Linked DNA regions of Homo sapiens: region 2 is linked to region 1. The links come from fine-mapping of genetic effects on gene expression. Tissue or cell type: whole blood. Region 1 holds a variant in brackets; the other region holds the start of a gene. All regions are shown on one strand. Distances are between the middles of the regions.

Region 1 (2,687 bases):
TGTATGTTCATTGCAGCACTATTCACAGTAGCAAAGACATGGAATCAACCTGAATGCCCATCAGTGATAAACTGGATAAAGAAAATGTAGTACATATGCAGCCATAAAAAAGAATGAGATCACGTCCTTTGCAGGGACATGGATGGAGCTGGAGGCCATTATCATTAGCAAACTAACACAGAAACAGAAAACCAAATACTGCATGTTCTCATTTATAAGTGGGAGCTAAATGATGAGAATACATCGACGCAAAGAGGGGCACAACAGACACTGGGGCCTACCAGAGGGTGGAGGGTGTGAGGAAGGAGAGGATCAGGAAAAATAACTAATGGAGAATGGGCTTATTACCTGGGTGATGAAATAATCTGCACAACAAACCCCCATGACACACGTTTGCCTGTGGAACAAACCTGAACATGTATCCCTGAACTTAAAAAAAAAATCAAATTGATAGTCTATAAACAAGCTGCCAGAGGCTCCAGTGAAACCTGGGAGCTGTGGGCAGAGCAAGTAGGCTGTCTCTGTTACACTCTGCCACCTCCTAGCGGTAGCAGCTTTTAGTTCCTGTGTCACAGAATTGAACATTTTCCTGCTTTGCAAGGAACTTTCAAAGGCTAATTCGCCTTTACTCTCACCTGCTTCCGTGGAGGAGGTGAATAAAGCCTGTATTTCAGTGATGTAGTAGTTTCTTAGGCTGCTGTAACAAAGTACCCCAAATTTGGTGACATAAAACGAGAAATTTATTCTGCACAGTTCAGGAGGCCAGAAGTCTGAAATTGAGATGGCAGTAGGGGTAGTGCTACCTTGGGAGGCTGTAGGGGAGAGTCTGTTCTTTTTCTCTTCCTACCGCTCCAGTTTCTGCTTCTGTGGTCACACTGCCTTTTCTTCTCTGTCTCTCCTTTGTACATCTTTCATTATGAGGACACTGTCATTGGATTTAGAGCCCACGTGGATAGACCAGATGATTTAATCTTAAGATCCTTACTAACATAGCGAGACCCCATCTCTACCAAAAAAAAAAAAATTTTTTTTAAAGATCCTTTTTCCAAATAAGCTTACATGCATAGGTTCCAGAGGTTTGATGTGGATATACCTTTGGCATGGGCAGGGGGCACTGTTCACCACACTATAAGTGGTTAGCGCCTTTTCTCTCCTTTAAAAAATAAAAAATCTGTAAATTCTCACTGCTGCTAGCACAGCTCTGTGTAAACCAGTGTTTTTTTTTTTTTGTTCCCTACTGAGAGCCAGCTTGCACCTTGGTCTACCAAGAGTTGCTGCTCAGTACATAGCTGCTTCATTATTTGTGTTGATTGCATTATTTATTAACACAAATAGCCATTTAGTTTTTTTAATAGAAAAAATAATTAAGATTTTGCATAATGTTTGTAAAAAATGGAAAACTTGATACAGAGATCGAAGAGGATATAAAATAAGATAAAAAATAAAAAATGGAAAATTTGATAGCTTAAGCCACTAAATTGCCCTTAAGGTGGAGTGCA[A/G]GTCAGTAACATTTCATTTTGCAGCATGTATAAAATAATTTCTGTTTTAAGGCTGTCTTTAACTGTTGCTCTTCATTTCTCTGCAGGTCTTTTAGATAACCCTGAACTTCGTGTGGTCCTTGTCTTTGGTTATAATTGCTGTAAGGTGGGAGCCAGTAATTATCTGCAGCAAGTAGTCAGCACTTTCAGTGATATGAATATCATCTTGGCTGGAGGCCAGGTGGACAACCTGTCATCACTGACTTCTGAAAAGTATGTCTTGTGTGCTTCTGATTTCGTCTGTGAATGAAGGGAAATGGTCTCAGGTTTTGTCACTTTGGGGTTAACAATTTAAAAAACGTGTTTAAAGAATTATTAAGATAATAGTTCATTCCATTTTGTAGTAGACATTGGCTAAGGGGCTTACTGAACATAATTCTGCTTACGGTTGAATAATTACATTTTTATATATATTGTCCTTCAAGAACTTCCTTGAGTCACATTCTCCTTAAAATTTGACATTGCCTGTTGATCTTTCCTTTGACAGATGTGGTACTCTGTGTGACCTCAATGTGTCACCTCCTTTCTAGTTTCCTCCTTTAAAGGAAACACATGGTTAGAGTGTATCTTTATGGCAAAACTTCTCAGAGCTTCTAATATGCCCAGTGCTGTGGAAATCTGGAAGGAGAATAGCATTACCTGTGACAGTTCCCAAATGTGTTTGGTCACAAAACTTTTTTCCACAGAATGTCTTGCAAGTCGTACTGGTTTTTGGAAATTCTGTATTAGATCTTTTGAAAGGCTTTTTCAAGCTTAAAAATTGTGGATCTTTTTTGTTACTAAGGCTTTTGCTTTCAAAGATAAAAATATTTGCTCTTCTGTCTTGGGAGCCATTACTTCCTTTCCATCTTGAATGAAAATACATATCATTTTGAGTTTGAAACAATTAGGTGGACATAAATATCATTTGTTTCCAGCAGGAAAATCAGACCCTACCCCACCCTCAATGCTTGTAAACACTACTATTTGTTTCCCACTCTGTTTAATATTTGCATCCTAGAGTGGTGACATGGGGACAGACTGTTGCAGATCAGTATCTATAAGAATAATGTAAGTCATCCTAGTTATAGTCTCTCTTCTGGTTATCTCTATGAGCTAGATCTGGGAAAATAGCTAAAGTTGAGGTCCCTGGACTGCCAGGGAGGAGGA
Region 2 (2,687 bases), 87 kb before region 1:
TAGAAGTTGGGGTAGAAGATGGTAGAAGTTGGGGCATGGCCAGGAAAAGTTAGGGCTGGTTTGAATGATAAGAGACTGAATTTGTAGGCTGTGGGGAGCTACTAACTTACTGAGGTAAATTGGAAAAGTTTATTTGTCTTCTTAAAGGCTAAGGACTATAACATGATACAAAATCTCAGAAGTAGATGGAAATAAAAACTTTCAGTAGACTTAATGTGTCCCTGTGTTGTTCTGTATTTTGTCATCTAAGGGGACCAGTAGCCCAGGGATCTCTTGTAGATTAGGAAGAAAGAGACAGGTGTCAGGGTTGGGTAACTCTAGGTAAGACTGGAAAAGGAAAATGCGGAGCCCCTTTCTGAAAAATTACGAATTTCAAAATGGCGACACCAGAATATTAAACCAAGCTCGAAGCCCTTCTAAGCTGGGAGCACTGTGCAACTACATAGGTTGGACGCATATGCAGCTGGTCCTGCCTCTTGCACTTACGATTGCACACACTATTGTCTGCCAAATTGGGATGTATTCCTTTGGACTGCTATCCAGACCTTTATTCATTTTTTGAGCACCTACAATGTGCCAGGAATTGTGCTAGTGGTGGGGATTCCAGATAAGAGCGAGCATTCAATTCAATCATATCGGGTTTCTACTATATAACAGGTCTTGTTCTAGGTCCTGGGGATACAGCTCTGAACACATTAACACGGGGCAGAGACAAGGAATAAATGGGTTAAAGATCAGATAGTGACAGGTGCCCAACAAAAACTTAGCACAGGACGATGTGACACAGGGTGACTATTTGAAATGGGTTGTGGTGGGGGGTGCCGGAGATGATATTTGAGCTATGAGTTTAGTGAAAATAGTGGGCAGCCCTAGCTCCATGGGGGTGTGGGTGGGGAGGGTTATCTTAAGCTTGGGAAACAAGGCAAAATAAGGAAAGGGGGGAGAGAGAGACTATATACGGCAGAGTGAACACAGGTGGTAGCTAAGGGAAGGGATGAAATCATGGGACACCTCCAGGCAACAGCCTCCAGGGGCTAAACCATCGTCTTGGGTAAATGGATGGTTTGAGAGCAAAGGCGGGAGCAGCGAGTCCGGTGAGAAGGTCCTCACAGGAACCCAGGCTGGTGAGAAGGTCCTCACAGGAACCCAGGCTAGCGAAGCGGTGGCTCGGACTAGGGTGAAAGTAGCGGAGGTAACGCTGGGTGAGCCGCACCCGCGTCTCCCACGAGGTCCCCCCAGTGAGGTTAGCGGGTGCCGCGCCGAGCGCCAAGCTGAGGAGCCGCCCCCAGGGGCTGGCGCTAGTCTGCAGCGGCGCCGACGTGGCCGGCGCGATCCGCCACGCACGTGTCCGGCTCCAGGCCGGGGGCGGGGGCGCGCGGGGGTCTCCGGCTCCTCCCCGACTTCTGGGGCCCGGGCGCCAGCTGGCCCCGAGCCTCCAGTCCGCGGGTGCGAAGAACGGAGCAGATGGGTCGGGAACAAGGGAGCTGGGTCAAGGCGAGGAGGGGGCGGCCGGGCGCGCGCGCTCTGGCCTCGTGCACGCGCTGAAACCGGAGCGCGCAGGGCGCGCCAGGGTGAGGGGGACGGGGGCGGGGTGGGGGCAGCCCTTTCCCAGGCGGTAGCGGGGGCGGCGTCGCTGTTGCCCTTTTAAGCCGCGGGGCCGCCGCCTCCTGCCGCTGGAGTCGGTTACAAAGGAAGCGCCACCCAGGCCGCCACACGCCGAGGCTTCCGCGCCCCTCGCCATTTTCCAGCAGCGCTCGACGAGGCGGAGCCGCGAGAGCGCGGCCCAGGCCGGCCCCGCGGGGCGGTCGCGGCCGTGACGGCGGCTCCGGGCCCGGCTCCCCTTCCGCGCCCGGCTCCCCTTCCGCGCCCCTCCCGCCGGAGATGAGGGGAAGATGTCCGTGTCAGGGCTCAAGGCCGAGCTGAAGTTCCTGGCGTCCATCTTCGACAAGAACCACGAGCGATTCCGCATCGTCAGTTGGAAGCTGGACGAGCTGCACTGCCAGTTCCTGGTGCCGCAGCAGGGCAGCCCGCACTCGCTGCCGCCGCCACTCACGCTCCACTGCAACATCACGGTGAGGCGCCCGGCCGCGGCCCCGCGGGGCAGGGCGAGGACGGAGAGGGGGCGCTTCGAGTCCCGGGACAAAGGGGAGCCTGCCCCGGAGAGGCTCCGGCTCCCCGGGCGGGGCAGGCCCGCCCCTTTCCCCCGCGACTTGCCCATCCCAGGCCGGGCTGGGACTGCGCGAGGCTTGGGTGGGAGGAGGCGGAGGGCGCGTCTTTCCGGCTTCTCGCCAGGGGCTGGCTTGGGGGCTTCTGGCCCATCTCGGTCCCCGTCTCCTAGCCCCGAGGGGGGAGTCCGCGGCGGCCCAAGCCCTTGTGGGGTCCATGGCCGCCCTCAGCCGGCCTGCTCCCGGGACCGGGGCGGGGCGGGGCGGGGCGGCGCAGCTCCGGCTGTTGTTTGAGCCCAGGCCGGCAAGGGGAACGGCCCTTAAGTTTTAACGCCTCATTTTTCAGTCGGATTTTCCTTCTTCCCGCTTGTTCAGCCAATTGTTTTTAAGTTTGCGTTTAAGGAGAAACTGACAATGAGAATGGACTCGTTGACGGAGGAAAAGTTGGAATGCAGACTCTGGTGCTGTTTGAGCGACCCCTCTCCCCCGGGCCTGGCTGCGCGCTGCTGTGTTCTGGAAAGG

Evidence for each region. PIP is the estimated chance that this variant, and not a neighbour inherited with it, causes the effect.
Region 2: it holds the start of UBE2Q2, and the variant in region 1 is fine-mapped to the expression of UBE2Q2 in whole blood (INTERVAL, PIP 0.94).

What each region holds. Positions count from the first base shown.
Region 1 is chr15:75,928,299-75,930,985 of GRCh38, forward strand. FBXO22 (F-box protein 22) reads left to right here. Exons shown (of 7, transcript NM_147188.3): 6 at 1,586-1,751. Among named protein-coding and RNA genes, the nearest start is that of FBXO22, 26 kb to the left of the region's middle. The variant A/G (reference allele first, on the strand shown) is at 1,500.
Region 2 is chr15:75,841,775-75,844,461 of GRCh38, forward strand. It overlaps UBE2Q2 (ubiquitin conjugating enzyme E2 Q2), which reads left to right and starts at 1,673. Exons shown (of 13, transcript NM_173469.4): 1 at 1,673-2,072. The coding sequence starts at 1,893. RefSeq lists silencers at 1,254-1,433, 1,474-1,613, 1,754-1,833, 2,084-2,483 and an enhancer at 1,755-2,652.